2 separate regions of the Homo sapiens genome follow, and region 1 is linked to region 2. The links come from fine-mapping of genetic effects on gene expression. A gene starts in region 2. The other region holds a variant in brackets. All regions are shown on one strand. Distances are between the middles of the regions.

Evidence for each region. PIP is the estimated chance that this variant, and not a neighbour inherited with it, causes the effect.
Region 1: its variant is fine-mapped to the expression of VPS8 in blood mononuclear cells (TOPMed, PIP 0.96).

The regions. Positions count from the first base shown.
Region 1 is chr3:184,996,196-185,005,376 of GRCh38, reverse strand. VPS8 (VPS8 subunit of CORVET complex) reads right to left here. Exons shown (of 48, transcript NM_001009921.3): 44 at 8,876-9,045; 45 at 5,516-5,681. Among named protein-coding and RNA genes, the nearest start is that of C3orf70, 150 kb to the left of the region's middle. The variant T/C (reference allele first, on the strand shown) is at 5,264.
Region 2 is chr3:184,807,619-184,816,799 of GRCh38, reverse strand. VPS8 (VPS8 subunit of CORVET complex) reads right to left here and starts at 4,634. Exons shown (of 48, transcript NM_001009921.3): 1 at 4,575-4,634. RefSeq lists silencers at 2,324-2,373, 2,384-2,473 and enhancers at 4,507-4,706, 4,767-4,816.

The DNA.
Region 1 (9,181 bases), 190 kb before region 2:
ATATGGAACCAAAAGAGAGCCCACATAGCCAAAGCAATACTAAGCAAAAAGAACAAATCTGGAGGCATCACATTACCCAACTTCAAGCTATACTACAACGGTATGGTTACCAATACAACATGGTACTGGTATAAAAATAGGAATGTAGACCAATGGAACAGAGCAGAGAAACCAGGTATAAAGCCAAATACTTACAGCTAACTGATCTTTGACAAAGCATACAAAAACACAAAGTGGGGAAAGGACACCCTATTCAACAAATGGTGCTTGGGATAATTGGCAAGCCACATGTAGAAGAATGAAACTGGATCCTCAACTCTCACTGTATACAAAGTCAACTCAAGATGCATCAAAGACTTAAATCTAAGCCCTGAATCCATAAAAACCCTTGTATAGACATTGGCTTAGGCAAAGACCTCATGATCAAGAACCCAAAAGCAAATGCAAAAATAAATAAATAAATAAATAAAAAACAAAACAAAAAAAACCAAATAAATAAATGGAACCTAATTAAACTAAAAAGGTTCTGCACAGCAAAAGAAATAATCAGCAGAGTAAACAGACAGCCCATAGAGTGGGAGAAAATATTCACAAATTATGGATCTAACAAAGGACTAACAACCAGAATCTACAAGGAACTCAAACAAATCAGCAAGAAAAAAACAACCCCATCAAAAAGTGGGCAAAGGATGCAAATAGACAATTCTCAAAAGAAGACATACAAACGGCCAAATGTATGAAAAAATGCTCAACATCACTAAACTATCAGAGAAATGCAAATTGAAACCGCAATAAGACACCACTTTACTCCTGCAAGAATGGCCCTAATTAAAAAATAAAAAAGAGCTCTCCCTCTCCCTCTCCCCGCGGTCTCCCTCTCCCCACGGTCTCCCTCTCCCTCTCTTTCCACGGTCTCCCTCTGAGGCCGAGCCGAGGCTGGACTGTGCTGCTGCCATCTCGGCTCGCTGCAGCCTCCCTGCCTGGTTCTCCTGCCTCAGCCTGCCGAGTGCCTGCGATTGCGGGCGCGCGCCGCCACGCCTGACTGGTTTTCGTATTTTTTTGGTGGAGACGGGGTTTTGCTGTGTTGGCCGGGCTGGTCTCCAGCTCCTAACCACGAGTGATCCGCCAGCCTCGGCCTCCCGGGGTGCCGGGATTGCAGACGGAGTCTCGTTCACTCACTGCTCAATGGTGCCCAGGCTGGAGTGCAGTGGCGTGGTCTCGGCTCGCTGCAGCCTCCACCTCCCGGCCGCCTGCCTTGGCCTCCCGGGGTGCCGAGATTGCAGCCTCTGCCTGGCCGCCACCCCATCTGGGAGGTGGGGAGCATCTCTGCCTGGCTGCCCAGTCTGGAAAGTGAGGAGCGTCTCTGCCCGGCCGCCATCCCATCTAGGAAGTGAGGAGCGTCTCTGCCCGGCCGCCCATCGTCTGAGATGTGGGGAGCGCCTCTGCCCCGCCACCCCGTCTGGGAGGTGAGGAGCGCCTCTGCCTGGCCGCGACCCCATCTGGGAGGTGAGGAGCGTCTCTGCCCGGCCGCCCCGTCTGAGAAGTGAGGAGACCCTCCGCCCGGCAGCCGCCCCGTCTGAGAAGTGAGGAGCCCCTCCGCCTGGCAGCCGCCCCGTCTGAGAAGTGAGGAGCCCCTCCGCCCAGCAGCCACCCCGTCTGGGAAGTGAGGAGCCACTCTGCCCGGCCACCACACCGTCTGGGAGGTGTACCCAACAGCTCATTGAGAACGGGCCATGATGACAATGGCGGTTTTGTGGAATAGAAAAGGGGGAAAGGTGGGGAAAAGATTGAGAAATCGGATGGTTGCTGTGTCTGTGTAGAAAGAAGTAGACATGGGAGACTTTTCATTTTGTTCTGTACTAAGAAAAATTCTTCTGCCTTGGGATCCTGTTGATCTATGACCTTACCCCCAACCCTGTGCTCTCTGAAACATGTGCTGTGTCCACTCAGGGTTAAATGGATTAAGGGCGGTGCAAGATGTGCTTTGTTAAACAGATGCTTGAAGGCAGCATGCTCGTTAAGAGTCATCACCAATCCCTAATCTCAAGTACCCAGGGACACAAACACTGCGGAAGGCCGCAGGGTCCTCTGCCTAGGAAAACCAGAGACCTTTGTTCACTTGTTTATCTGCTGACCTTCCCTCCACTATTGTCCTATGACCCTGCCAAATCCCCCTCTGCGAGAAACACCCAAGAATGATCAATTAAAAAAAAAAAAAAATGAGAAAAAATAAAAATAAAAATAAAAATAAAAATAAAAAAATATTAGATGTTGGCATGGATGTGGCAGAAAGGCAACACTTTTACACTGCTAGTGGGAATGTAAACTAGTACAACTATTATGGAAAACAGTATGGAGGTTCCTTAAAGAACTAAAAGTAGAACTACCATTGGATGCAGCAATTCCATTACTTGGTATCTACCCAAAGGAAAATAAGTCATTATATGAAAAAGACACTTGTACATGCATGTTTATAGCAGCACAATTTGCAACTGCAAGATGTGGAACCAACCTAAATGTCCACCAACCAAGGAGTGCATAAAGAAATGTGGTATACATACACCATGGAATACTACTCAGCCATAAAAAGAAACAAAATAATGGCATTTGCACAATCTGGATGGAGATGGAGACCATTATTCTAAGTGAAGTAACTCAGGAATGGAAAACCAAGCATCTTATGTTCTCATTTATCAGTGGGAGCTTAACTATGGAATGCAAAAGCATAAGAATGAAATAATGGACTTTGGGGACTCAGGGAGGGGGGAAGGACTGGAGCAAAGTAAGGGATAAAAGAGTACACACTGGGCATAGGGTACACTGCTTGGGTGATGGGTGCACCAAAATCTCAGAAATCACCACTAAATAACTTTTCCAAGTAATCAAAAACCACCTGTTCCTCAAAAACTATGGAAATAAAAAATTTAAAAATAAAATTAAATGGTTTCCGAACCTTTCTTGATGCTCGAGAAGGTAGGAAGAAATTCAGTGAACAGATTACCTTTCTTCACTGCAAGAGGTGTGGGGAACATAGGAAGAGGGCAACCAATGTAGTGTAAATGGCTTTCAAAATTTTACACCAATTCATGAAAAATTTCTCAAGAAAACTTGGAATAAAAAGGAATTCCCTAAACATGATATAAAGGTTACAGACTAAAAGCCTACAGTTAACATTACACTTACCAATGAAAAAATATAATGCCATAAGTATTGGCACACATGAGTACTTAACTTGGTCCTTGCTTGCCTAATGAACCTCACCTCATTTCACTCTCTTTCTGACCCTCTTAATTTCATTCTACTTACCTTCTAGTTCTGGGTTTGTTGCACTTAAACTCGTCTAGCTTACTCCTTTTCTTTTCCCTTCAAGGGAAGCTAACAGGGCACTTCTAGCAGGCCTTCCATGATCCCTCATGTCTATTTTATATCTACTCATTATCTGTACTTACAGCATAGTTCATCTGTAAGTACTTGTGGTATAATAAAAATACATATATTTGGCCTTTGTCTTAGGTTCCTGGCACACAGCTCCTAAAACCCTTGGAATCTCCTGAGTGATGAGAGTGTCTTTTGCATGAGAATAAGATGACTGCTGGCTGGAGACCCCTGGATAGCTTCAGCATGAGGGCTAGGTGCCAGAAAGACCAAGCCATGGTTAGAGGTTTGGAACTTTCAGCCCCATCTCCCAACCTGTGCAGAGGGGAGAGGGGCTGGAGATTGAGCTCAATCATAAATGACCAATAATTTTCAGGCATGACTACATAACGAAACCTCCAAAAAAAACCTGTAAATGGTGGGGTTGAGGAGCTTATGGGTTGGTGTAGACATTGATGTGCTAGGAAGGTGGTAGGCCCAGAAAGGGCATGGAATCTCTACCACTCCTCATCCCCCTCCCCAACCTTGCCCTATGCACCTCTTCCATTTGGCTCTTCCTCAGTCGCATCCTTTATAATAAATTGGTAAATGTAAATAAAGTGTTTCCTGAGTTCTGTGAATCATCCTAGTGAATTATGGAACCTCAGAGGGGGTCATGGGGACCACTGAATTTGCAGCCAAGTCAGACAAAAGTAGGTAGCCTGAGTACTTTGTTTGTGACTGGCATCTAAAGTGAGGACTGTTCGTGTGGGACTGAACCCTTAAACCATGGAGTCTCTAACTCTAGCTAGTATCAGAACTGAACTGAATTGGAGTCAGAAAAAACTTGAGAGTACTCTGTTAAAAATCCTTTTATAAGTTTGTTGACTGTATACTCTGAAAGACAAGACCATGTTTGCCTTGTCTACCATTGTATCCCCAGGCACCTGGCACAGTGCCTATCACACTGTTCAATACAAACTTGGGGAAGGTATAATTGGAAAGGCTACCACTGGAGAGTAGAAGTTCTACATTGTTATCTGGAGAGAAGTTAGTCAGGAGGTTTTCCCAGGCTCTGCTTCTAATACAATGCTGATGGCTGATGAAACAAAAAGAGAGGCCGGGTGCGGTGGCTCACGCCTGTAATCCCAGCACTTTGGGAGGCCGAGGCGGGCAGATCACGAGGTCAGGAGATCGAGACCATCCTGGCTAACACGACGAAACCTCAACTCTACTAAAAATACAAAAAATTAGCAGGGCATGGTGGCATGCACCTATAGTCCCAGCTACTCGGGAGGCTGAGGCAGAATGGCGTGAACCCAGGAGACGGAGCTTGCAGTGAGCTGAGATCGCACCACTGCACTCCAGCCTGGGCAACAGAGCGAGACTGCATCTCAAAAAAAAAAAAAAGAAACGAAAAGAGAAAAGTAACAAGCCCAACTTTTCACTATGTGATGTGAATGTGAAGGCCAACTATAGGATAGGGTAGCACAGAGGAAGGAACAGGAAGCCAAAAATATGATACTACCTCAAAGAGGAAGTATAGCCGAGTAGAGCACAATGATCAAGTCCCAGTCCCAGTAACTTCTCCACATTGAACCCCTCATGTTGTCAAGCTCTGCTCTCCTGAAAACTATCAAGCGGTAGAGTTCAAACTCTGCTCCACTGTCTGCTTTAAAAAAAGGCTGTAAAATACATAAAATTATCATCTAGTCCAGTAGTCAGACTCCAAAGGCAGTGAAAGAGCATATGTGTATGCACCTTGTCCATCATCAGCCCTACTTAAAAGTCATAATTCTGCACTCTTATCATATAGGTACTCATTGGTACCTGCAAGTACTCAGCTGTACTTGCTAAGCTGTTACTCTATCAAAAGGTCTTAAAAGCAGGCTCATGTGTGTACACCTCA[T/C]CTGTCCAACTGGATCTTAAGCCGTTTAAAGGCAGAAAATGTCATCTGTTGCTCTCAAATTCATGTTTTTCCATACTGAGTAGAGAGGAGAGGCTCTTCGAACACTAAATAGGACTGAAAAGAACATTTCATGTACCCAATACCCACCAGGTAAATTTGTTGAGACCTATGGAACCGAAGGAAATGAGACCAGGCCCAAATGACATTGGTAAGAAAAGACCATTTCCATTTTGCCACGAAAACAAGTCTTACCTGTGATGGGGTTATCCTTCCCTTTTTAATTTCAGATGAATTTTCACTGAGTTTTCCTACTTTGTTACTTGAACTGCATTTGTAGCATGTCCATCTTGTTTGGCCCTCAAATTCCACAGTGCATTCTTTGTTTTGTAGGCAGAATGAGTGATACAAATGGCCACAGCTGCAAAACGAAGGCAACCAATTTGTACTTTTTATTATCACAAAATCCATAAATATAAGCTTGTAAGTGTACTTAGAAGCAATAAAAATCTCTAACAAGTAGAAATGCACTGATGGCTGTACAGGGTAAGAAACAAGAAAGGGAATGTACTTGCTGCTGTCCTCTCTTTTTAAAAATCCACATTCATACATATATTTGTATACTTATGTTGTGAGTACGAACAAATCACAGTTCTCTGACTAAAAACTACCTAGAGGATGAGTTGAACTTCTGTTCATTTCTCAAACTATGAAATCCGGATAGTATTTTTAGATAATCTGAAAAAAAGGCAACTGGGGGCTGGGCGTGGTGGCTCACGCCTGTAATCCCAGCACTTTGGGAGGCCGAGGTGGGCAGATCAGCTGAGGTTAGGAGTTTGAGATCAGCCTGGCCAACATCGTGAAACCCCGTCTCTACTAAAAATACAAAAAATTAGCTGGACGTGGTGGCAGGTACCTGTAATCCCAGCTACTTGGGAGGCTGAGGCAGAAGAATTGCTTCAACCCGGGAGGCGGAGGTTGCAGTGAGCCAAGATCGTGCCACTGCACTCCAGCCTGGGCAACAAGAGCAAAACTCTGTCTCAAAAAAAAAAACCAAAAACCAAAAAATTAGCCAGGTGTGGTGGCACACACCTGTAGTCCCAGATACTCAGGAGGCTGAGGCATGAGAATCGCTTGAACCTGGGAGGCAGAGGTTACAGTGAGCTGAGATTGCTCCACTGCACTCCAGCCTAGGAGACAGAATGAGACTCCATCTCAAAAAGAAAAAAAAAAGCAACTGGAAAAAATCATAATTATTTAAGTAGCTTGATAACAACATGAGTGGTCTGCTCACCAAATTCAAGGCAAGGGTTGTGATTTGATTAAACATTTACAAAAATGTCATTGCTGTAGTAAATCCTTACGCTATTCTTATAAAGAAATTCCCTATTGATTACACTAAATTACCAAATCAGCCTCCCAGAAGTTGAGTACTGAGAATAATTCTCAGCCATCTACACTGATTTATCTTCATTTCTCTAATCTAAAATGTCGGACATTCCAGAAATCAAACCTTTTCTTTTCTATAGTCTTTATACTCTTTTTCTTTTTTCTTCCCTTCTCTCTCTCTCTCTCGCTATATATATATATATATATATATATATATATATATATATATATATATATATATATATATAAACTTCCTCTTCTATACTCTGTTGTTGTAGCTACCTTTGCTCCTTTAGAGATTACTTCCAGGTTCCATAGCTTTAAAATACCACTACCTTCTAAATATATCCAGAATCCTACCACTTCTTACTTCATGACTATTACCTAGACCATCTCTCACATGGGCTACTACAACAGCCTAAGTGGTCCATCTGCTTTCCCCCTTGATCTCTCTAGTCCTTTCTTAACACAGCAGTCAGAGTAATCCTTAAGACATAGGTCAGATCATGTCACCGCCCCAGTCCTCAAAACCATCCAGTGGCTTCGCATCTCAGAGTAAAAGTCTCACTTTCATTATAAAAATGAGTTAGACTTGGGCCAGCTCCTACATGATTTGGCCTCTGCTCCTCTGAAGTCTCTTTCACTGTCCCCTTCCTTGGCTGCTCAGGTGCCACTAGCCTCCTCACTCACTACTCCTCAAGAATGCCAAGGCTCTCCCGCCTCATGGTCTCTGCACTTGGCTCCTCTGCCTGGTGTACTCTCTTCTGACGTTGCATGGCCACTTCCTTTAGATCCCCTCAAACGTCACTTAAACAAGAAGGCTTTCCTGGACTACTCTATAAATTAGTAGCTCCCAACATTCCTTTTCCTCTATAGCATAGCTTGTTTTTTATTCATGTAACTATTATTTTTCTATTAATTAATTTTTAAGTTGTCTGTTCATAAGTCACCTTAACAGTGAGCCTTTCCCTGACCAACCTATATAAAATATCTGCACCCCCCACCAAACACTCTGTATCTCCTTTAACATTTTTTCCCCCATGGTAGTTATCAGTATCTGGCATTTCACTTGTTGGCTTATGGTCTATCCCTGCCACTACAATGTAAACTCCATGAGGGCAAATCCTTTGTTTTGTTCATCCTGTATCCTATCCCCTTGAATAGCAGCTTGCATACAGCAGGTGCTCAATAAATATTTCTTGCCTGAATGGGCTCTTTGTGTGAAGAGAACTACTTCCCCTTCCAACCATCAAGTCTACCAATCTTCCTGCAGATGTAACACTCAGATAGTGCTTACTCATGCCAGGCACTGTTACAAGTGCCTTATATAAATCATCTCATTCAATCCTCACAAAACCCTACTATCCTATTTACAGATGAGGAAACTAAGATATAAAGAGGTTAAATAACTTGTCCAAGGTCTCACAGCTGGCATGTAGTAGAGTCAAGACTTGAAGTCAGGAAGTTTGGATCCACGGCCATATCATGTTACCTCTATCCATACATTCTAGATGAGCTGTCTTTGCTCCTGAGACCAACACCTTCACTCTGCACTAGGGTTCCTCTCTCTTTGCAATGTAGCTTAAATATCATATGCTGACAACTTCTAAATTAAAATTTTCCAGTCTCAACACATCTCCAGATTTCTGACTTGAATAACTGTCTAGCTGGCATCCCTACCTGATGTCTAACAGTACATTTCAAACCTAACACGTGCAAGACAAAACTCTTGATTTCCCCAGTTCCTTGTACCTGTTCTTCCTCATCTTAGACAACGGTACCATGTTTACCCAATTGCTCAGACCAAAGATTCATTTTTCTCTTATACTCCACATCTAATACACCAGCAAGTTATCCCTACCTTTAAAGGATACTCAGAATCCAAACACCTCTCAGCACCTTTGCTCCTCCCTCTCTCGTTCTGCTCAAAGGTCATGTCCTCAGATATGCTTTCCCTCATTCAACAGCACTTGTCCTGAACTCATCATCCTTCTATCTATTTGTCCTGTGTTTTATTTTTCTCCATAGCTCTTATTCCTCTGTATTTATGTCTTTCCTGGGCACCCTAACCTCCACCCCAATGCAGAATGTAAGGTCTGTGAGGGCAGGAACTTGCCTATCACGTTCACTGCTAGAATGACTACCCGTGTATCCATGTGGATTCTTGCCTGGTAATGCCACAGATGTACATGTACCATACATGTAACATTTCCTTCCCTTTCTTACCTAAAGACAATTATTTCATCAGCCATTTCTTGGCGTCTCTTGTACTGCTGCAAACATATAGAGCAGTAATCTTGTTTGGGATTCAGTCCTCTGGTGACCGAAGCTCTCAGGTTACACAATGACCAATGGAGATCTTGGTTTAGAAGGCTGGTTGTTGTTTCCAGCAGGGTCTATGAAACACCAAAACAAAAAACAAACAAACAAAAGGTTATAAGATGAAAGAGATAGAGGAGATGAATGGTGAATAGCACTTGTTTAGTTTTCAACTACCAACAGCTAAAATTGAAACACACTATAAAGGGATAA
Region 2 (9,181 bases):
CCTCACACCCAAGCAGTTCACGTCACCTGTGCTCAAAATAACAAACGCCATGCAGTTCCAACATGGAAAAACAAGATCTGGCCGTATGGGGCTTCCTGAGAGACCCACCGCTTGTCAGTCTCTGATATGACTCCCTCTTGGGGTACTTTGAGGGTACTCAATTTTCACCTTATTCATTTAGATACAGACCCTATTTAGAGAAACATTACTATATACTGGGATGGGCTGCTTTACTTGACCCTGGAATTTCTTTCCAAGAAGGCACATTTAGGTAATTGTAGCTCACAGTGCCAGAACTGCCACGACGAAAAAGCCCAACCCTCTGTTTCTCTTTCTGTTGTTGGTGAATGTCTAAATGAGGAGAGTGATCATAAGTACATACAGATTAAAAAATGTTAAAAAGAAAAGTAAGGGGAAGGAACAGTGCCTAAGACCTTCCTGTATACAGTGAGTGCTAAGTTACTGCTATGAATTGTCAGACAATCAGCTCCAGCCTAGAAAAGAAAAATCTAATCCCCTATCACAATATACAAAACAATAATATGAACGAAGTCTACAAATATCTAGATAATGTAGAAATTCTAACTTTATTGATCAGTTTTATATCAATATGTGTGTGAGGTAATAAGTGAAATAAATAACAGAGAAAAATGATCACTTCCAGCTTCTATAATACTGTCTCCACTATCATGAGAATGTCTCTTCTCAGACCCACTTCAGCTCCAAAGAACTCCTCCTAAAAAGCACAAGGGCCTTGTGTACGCTGAAATATATTCCCTTTTCTTCTTCACATAACTGACTGATGCAGGTAAATTCTTGTAAGTTAAATGCGCAAAAGACAGGATTCCACTTAGGTAAAGGCTGAGTAGATGATGGCCTTCTTTATTAATTTGCAATTAACTGTCATCTCAATTTCTCTTGGTTAGGTGTCAAGAAGGATATAGAGTCATGAGAGATTTATTCTTTTTTTTTTTTTTTTTTTAAGAGCAGGAAGTAACTGGAAGCGTCTTGCTGAACTGCAACGGAAAAAACAAAGGTTAAAACACCCCAGCACCACTGCCACCTTTCCTGGAGGGCAACTGCTTCTCCTCCATTCCAACCATGTGATTTTGGTGGTGCTGCCAATCAAGTACCCTATCTGCCTAGCTAGCGGAGCAGAAGAGTAGGCACATCACATTCTTGGGTCCTATGTGGCCAATCAAGGTACTTCTGGAATTTCTCTTTATTCTAGGGTGCTTAATCTTGGATGGCATAACACAGGAGTCATCTGCAGTCACATCTTTTATGCATTTATATACAGTCATGTGCCCCAAAAAGACGTTTTGGGTCAACGACAGACCACATATACAACCATGGTCCCCTAACATTACACATAATGGAGCAGAAAAATGCCTGTAGCCCAGTGATGTCACAGCTGTTGTAATGAATGCATTACTCATCTGTCTGTGGTGATGCTGATGTAAACAGACCTACCGCACTGCCAGTAGTATAAAAGCTAAGCACATACAATTATGTGCAGTACATAATACTTGATAATAAACTATGTGCCAGTTTATGTATTTGCTATCCTATACTTTTTATCTTTAGAGTGTACTCATCCACTTATTTAAAAATTTAAAAATTAGCTGTAAAACAGTTTCAGGCAGGTCCTTCAGGAGGTATTCCAGAAGGCACTGTTATCATAAGAGATGACAGTTCCCTATGTGTTACTGCCTCTAAAGACATTCCACCGGGACCTTCCTGACTCTGTGTAGGCCTAGAGTAATGTGTGTGTTTGCGTCTTCGTTTTTAAAGATTAAAATTTTTTGAAATAGAAAAAAGCTAACAGAATAAGGATATAAAGAAAATATTTTTGTACAGCTAATTGTACAATGTGTTTGTATTTTAAGCTAAGTTTTATCACAAAGAAGTTAAAAACTTTTTTAAATTAAAAAGTTTATAACATAAAAGTTACATTACAGTAAGCTAAGGTTAATTTATTATTGGAGAAAGAAAAAATTTTTAATAAATTCAGTGTAGCCTAAGTGTACAGTGTTCAAAAAGTCTACAGTAGTGTACAATAATGTCCTAGGCCTTCACACTCACTCACTACTCACTGCCTCACCCACAGCAACTTCCAGTCCTGCAAACTCCATCCATGGTAAGTGCCCCACACAGGTTCACATTTTTCAATCTTTTAAACTGTATTTTTACTGTACCTTTTCTATGTTTAGATATACAAATACTTGGCCATTGTGTTACAACCACCTACAGTATTCAGTACAGTAACATGCTGTGCTGGTTTATAGCCTAGCAGCAACAGGCCATCCCACATAGTCTAGGTGTGTAGCAGACTACACCATCTAGGTTTGTGTAAGTACACTATGATGCATGCACAATGACAAAATTTGCCTAACCACACATTTCTCAGAACATATCCCCTAACTGTCCCATGACTGTAACAGGAAGAATGAGGCTTGCAATTACAGTTGCAGAGGAGATAGGGAACTGGGGGTTACTGGTCCTTTGCAGAAAGGGAGAGAGACACAAGTACTCCATCACTGGAGTCACTGGATTTAGTGATATAGTGATACCCCAGCCCCTTCCAGGTTTGGAGCCAATAAATCCCTTTTAGCTTAAGCCCATTTGAATTTTCTGTCACTTGCAACAGAAATATCTTTGACTAAAAAAGTATAATTGCTATTACAGTAAACCTAAGAAATTCATAACAGTGAAAAATCCAACGCAAAGCTATATTTCCTTGCTAAAACACAGAACACATTTAATAATGTCATACAGCGTGAAGATAAGTCAAATATTCATTCAAGATTCAGTTAAGAATACAACAGTTTGATCTTACCACTATGTACCGATGACACCTACAGCTGTGGATCAAGAGAACATACGATCTAAACTCTATGAAAGCTATCAATAGATCCAAAGTTAAACATACTTCATTAAATTCAAAAGATCTTACTTCTCATTCACATACATAACTGACATTTTGTGTCACACTGGTTGAAATGTCAATGGAATAGTGAGATACAGCTAAGAATCACCAACATGTCCCAATATTCTGGAAGACAGAAAACATCCATCTGCTGACAATGGTCCAGATACGAAGCAAATATATTAAATATAAAGAAAAAATCAACATATTACTCTGTTAGAGCTCTGGAAAGAATTTTCTCACAAATGCCTCTTTGACCATATAAAGCCCAGTAGTTCAACGAATTTTTTTTCCATTTATCTTTATTGCATATTCTATGGAACAGGCCAGCTATTGCCAGAGGATTCAATACCTATTCTGTGCTTAAATTTAACCATGAGCAAACCCACGTCTTACACAAACATATGCAGATTCTCCATCCACATTTATATTAGATATACCTCAAACCCACACAGGCAGACATAGACATACACAGACAATTAACATGTAATTGTCTCCCAAATGCAGACATTTGGAGTAAGGTTTAGCACCACAAGCTAACATCCATGCTTGTTTTGCTTGGGTTTTGGGGTTTTTCAGTAGGGGAAAGTAGAGTATGGTAGAGGGTGGATGGTGCAGAGGCCAGAAGCCTTCCTATTCATTCTAACAAGAATCTAAGAAGTGGAGGGGGCCTGCTTATTTAAAGAAGGCTCCCCAGCTAGCTATTCCTGATAACCCACGGCCATGGAACCTCTCACCGATCCTACCTCCTCCCACCCTATCCTCCTGTAAAGCACCCCCATTTTGTACACCCAGACACTCTGAGCAGCTGTTTCCCTCCTTCCCCAGATGCCAAGCACAAAGAACTGGCCAAGGCACAGGAGTAGCCTCGAACTTCAGAGGCCCACCTTTCACCCTGCTGCCCTCACTCTGGTGCACAACTTGCACGCGGAGACAAACTGGAACCAGCCTCACAGGGTGCGCACCGATCCTAAGAGGTGGACACCCCATCTAAGCCTCAGGCTCAGGCACCTTGATATCAGTCCCTGGAGGCTAAAGGGGTCCACACCTGTTTCCCAGGCCCGACAGACCGGCTACACACCTGTTCCGCCCGGGAGTGGGGAGGGGCATGACACCCGCCGCCTAGGCTCACAGTCGGGGGAGCGGGCGCGCCAGTCCCTCAGCCTAATTGCCGCACGACTGTAACAGGACAGAATGAGGCTTGCAATTATAGTCGCAAAGTAGATAGGGAACTGAGGGGTTACTGGCCCTTTGCAGAAAGGGAGAGATACACAAATACATCACCGGAGTCACTGGATTTAGTGATACCTCAGCCCCTTCCAGGTTTGGAGCCAATAAATCCCTTTTTACTTAAGCCCATTTGAATTTTCACATTCATTTGGAACCAGTAAGTGGAAATTGCCCGACCCAGTTCCGGGCCAACGTACGACACGCCCCTCCACTCGAGAATCAACCCCGCCCGGCCCGTGGCTCGGGTCCGGTTAGCCCGTCAGGGGCTGCTCTGTTCGCTCCCCGAGGTCCCGCCGCTGTCGCGCGGGGAGGAGACGCCGAGGCTCAGAGACCTGTCGCGCGCTCTCCTCCTACCCTGAATACGGCCCCTCAATCCTGTCTCCTTCCACGGGCCCGCTCTCTGGAAACTCGTTACCTGAGCTTGCTGCCATTCCGGCCGTGGACCGCCGGCCCACGTGACCGCACCCACTGCTCTAGCCTCACGCACGCGCACTACCTACCACTGCGGGCAGCGCTTCCGCTTTCCTCCTCGCACTGCTCCCCCTCCTGGGCGGTCCGCGCCTCTTCACCACGCCCCTATTTAAAGGGCCAGAGATACGCCGTCTTCCCCCCTACGGAAAAAATGGGTGATTCACATCTTGAGGACCAAGAGAATGGAAACGTCGAAAGAGTAGCGCAGACAAATAAATAACAGTCCTTGAGGTGAGAGGAGAAAGCTCCTCCTTTAAGAAAGTGAACTTACTTGCAGCCAGCCCAGAAGGGAAGTTGATTCCCTGCCTTTTGGAGTTTGCAACCAGTAAATTTTTTTTAACTTTTTTTTTTTTTTAAAAGATGAACTCAGAATTGCCTATTTATTGTGTCAAATAAGTACAATAGGCACACACATACTAAAATACCAACTATTATCTTGTAATATATCATCAGTGTTGCTCCCCAAAATACATCTTAACACCAAAAATACAGGAGAAACATAGTCTCAAATAAAGGAAACATCTGAAAAATGAACAAAAACGTATGCTTATTTCTCTTATCGCTCCTGAAGAAAGGTGAAAGCTTTCAGAACAGACTGGTTTCTAGAGTCATCACTGTACGTAACATTAGCCCCAGGACACAGATTTTAGGCCTGCTGGGGGCTATATAGGTCAAGAAAACAGGAGGAAGAACACCAGAAGATACTCTTGGAAGGAGATACAGAAAATATTCGGTTGGGCAGACATTTTTGAGCATCAGCTAGGTTCACTAGACTTCTGGGCCTTCAGAAGACCCGAAGGTGTTGCCCTGTCCTCCAGGTATTTATTTTCTAAGAATTCAGTGTACAGACATAACAAAATACAAGGCAGGCTGTTTTGAGTAATATAAAGAAAGACATTGAACCACCATTTTCGCACAGACAGGGGGAAAGGGTGAAACACTCAAGGAAGGATGTGGTATCTTGTCAGGGCCTTGAAGGATTTCAGTAGCAGAGAGCAGGGAGAATGCCTAGCTGAGGGAAGGGTGGGATCAAAGGCAGTACAAAGCAAGTTTGGGAACTAGTTATTGGCCTGATGTAGCCGTGGTGTGGCCAGTGGCTTTCAACCTTCTTTTAATCATCCCTCACAGTAAGAAATACATTTCAGGCCAGGTGCGGTGACTCATGCCTGCAATCCCAGCACTTTGGGAGGCTGAGGCAGGTGGTCAGGAGTTCAAGACCAGCCTGACCAACATGGAGAAACCCTGTCTCTACTAAAAATACAAAAATTAGCCAGGTGTGGTGGCATGCACCTGTGGTCCCAGCTACTCGGGAGGCTGAGGCAGGAGAATTGCTTGAACCCAGGAGGCAGAGGTTGCAGCAGTGAGCCAAGATTGTGCCATTGCACTCCAGCCTGGGTAACAGAGTGAGACTCCGTCTCAAAAAAAAAAAAAGATACATTTCAGCCATGGCCTAGTATAAAAACACACACAGTATGCGCATATGTGTGAGTGTGCATTATAGATAGATAGATAGATAGATAGATAGATAGATAGATATGCTGAAACAGTAATTGCCCTTAGAGTGTACAATGCAACTTGGTATTTTCTATTCTATTCTCTTTTTTTAAGTGCTGGTTACTGAATTCATTTCAGTACTCAGTGATGCAGAGCAACCCATAGTTTGAAGACACTGGTGTAGTGTGTATTAGAGATGTGGTGGGCTATGAGGCTGGAAAGGCTAGGACCAGATCCAGGAAGACATTGCACGCTAAGCTGGGGTGTTCTGCTCTTCTGGTGAGAGTCTCCAGAGGAACTCGAGCAGAGGAGTGGCAAGATGATAGCTGTGCTTTAGAAGGCTGGAAACCGGCCTTTGGTTCTGAATATCACATTTTTCTAGTAAAGCTATTAAACTAGAGACTGTCTACAGAAGGATAAGCAAGCTGGTGAGACCAGAAAGCCTGTGTGACAGAGAACTTTTGAAAGTATCCAGAGGAAAAGAAATTAGCAGAAGTAGGGGAGAGCAGGGTCATAGGGGTGAGCAGTGGAAAGGTAGCTATTAGGTTGGTACACAAGTAATTGCGGTTTTTGCCATTACTTTAAAAAACTGACCCTTTTGAAATATCTCTGCAACACTCATAGACTTATTCTGAATAGCTGTAGAAAGAAAGCAAGCCTACGACCTGTGTATGGACGTTGCAGAGAGGCAGATTTCAACTTATAATAAAGAATATTTTAGGATGGTCCAGACTGACTCTGAGACCTCTCCAAAGTAACAGCCCTTTTATGTACCTCTGTTCACAGCAGGAAGTAATCTCAAATGCTATCCTTTCCAGGGCTGTTTGCCTTAATAATAATAAAAAAAAATGTGTGCTTATTGTAGAAAACTTGGAAAATTCAGGAAATATTTTAAAATAAAGCAGAAATTACCCACATCCCAGAAAAAGGCACTTATAGTTTTGGCTTATCCGTTGGATCTTTTTCTTTGTATATTTACATTTGTGACATAATAGAACTGCATAGAATATTTAGTTGTGTATTCTATATATTTATAGGATATATAGTTAATAATCCATCCTCTTTTTTTCACTATTATATCTTGAGCACTATCCACCATCACTAAAATTGTTCACAAATATTATTTGTCATGGCTACATAATTATTAATGATATAGTTTCATGTATTTCATTATTCCACTATTTTTGGACATATACAGGAGTTCCTATTTTTTACTGCTAACAAGAACATTGCCATGAATATCCTTACACATTATCTTTGCCCACATTTTAAAATTATTTCCTTCCTTAGGCTAGCAACCTATAAGTGGAATTACTGATTCAAAGGCTTTGAAAACTCTTAAGTCTGTGAATACCCGTGGTCAAACTGCCTTCCAGAAATGTCAGGCCAGTTTTCATTCTCACCAGAAGCTCTCAGTGGTGCCCATCACACGCACCCCCACTGGCATTTATTTTATCTTAAAAAAAAAAAGATTTGCCAATATGATAGATGAAATGGTCTCTCATTTTAACCTGTATGGGATTACTATTGGAGTGGAATATCTATATAAATTTATCAGCCCTTTATAATTATTCTGGGAATGCAGTTTCACTGCTGGATTTGTGATTGCAAATAGTACTGAGTGAATTGTTACAGACTTGTGAGGAAAAAAAAACAGAGAATGATGTTTAAAATAAATGATGTGGTCACACCAAGTTATAGGCAAATTATATTGTGGTGTGCTGCACTAACAAAGGGTAGTGGGAGAATTGAGTCATCACACAGTATTACAATATTCATGTGAATATTGGCTCCAGCAAAATATCATTCCTTATATTAAATCAAAATTGTAGATTTGCATTTCCTCATTTGGTAGTTTTGTTTGTATTCAATTTATTTTTTTAGTTTTATAGATGCATAAAATCTATAAAAATCAGGAGCTCTTAGTTTTGTGTTTGCATATATACATACACATATATGTATGCAACATTATAAAAAATTATAAGCTAACTCTAGATATCTGTGAGAATCTTTTCCCCTTACAAAGGATCTGAACGATATCCAAGTTTGAGAAACAGTGATACTGGAATTTCTTAAAGTTTCATTTGTACTTATCTAAACACAGGTATTGAGATTTTTTTGCAAGGCAAAATTTGCATCAGCTTATATATTGGAATTTTTCCATATAGAATAGTGTAATGATTTTCTTCTTTTTGGAAAGAGTACCAAAAGCTCTACTATGTTTGGGGTTCAGAGAGTATGTTTTGACTTAAAATGTACCATTCATCAGTTAACTTTCTACAGGTCAGTAAGACCTAGACAGAAGAATGTTTGTGTTTACTAAACTTGTAAGTAAGAGAAAGCAGTTGAGCAGATAGTGATTACAATGGAGCTTTTGTGAAGTGGTCTTAAGAGAAATTAAGCCAATGAGAAAAAAGGTTGCATGTGAGCTCTCAGAGCCTTGGGAAGCAGTGAGGGCTGGCCTGCGGGGTGCACAGGAGCTAGAAGAGGGCGCCACTGAGGGCTGCCACAGTTGGATGGTGTCCTTACACCGGCTCTATTGCCTCCAGCTCTCCCCAAGAGTGAAGGATGCAGACCTCGACCCAGACATCACTATTACCCCTGCATCTAGAATAAGCCACATCTCTTCTGAAGGAAAAAAATGTCTGTTCCTGAGAGCAAAAGGCAGAGAATAGGAGATGGATGCCTTTGTCATTTCTTTTTTGCTCACAATCACAAAATAAACTGGCCTCTTTTCCTTTTTTAAAAAGGGAACTTGTTGGAGCACAGAGAACTTTTAGGGCAGTGAAATGATTCTGTATGATGCTATAATAGTGGAAACATCATAAATTTGTCCAAAGCCACAAAATGTACAACACCGAGAATGAACCCTAAGGTAAACTGTAGATGTGGATGATAATGATGTAATGATGTGTCAGTGCAGGTCCATCAGCTGTAACTAATGTAGCACTCTGGTGGAGGAGACCATCTGTGCCTGGGGCAGGCAGTGTATGAGAAGTCTCTGTACCTTCCTCTCAATTTTGCTGTGAACCTAAAATCACTCTAAAGAATCAAGCT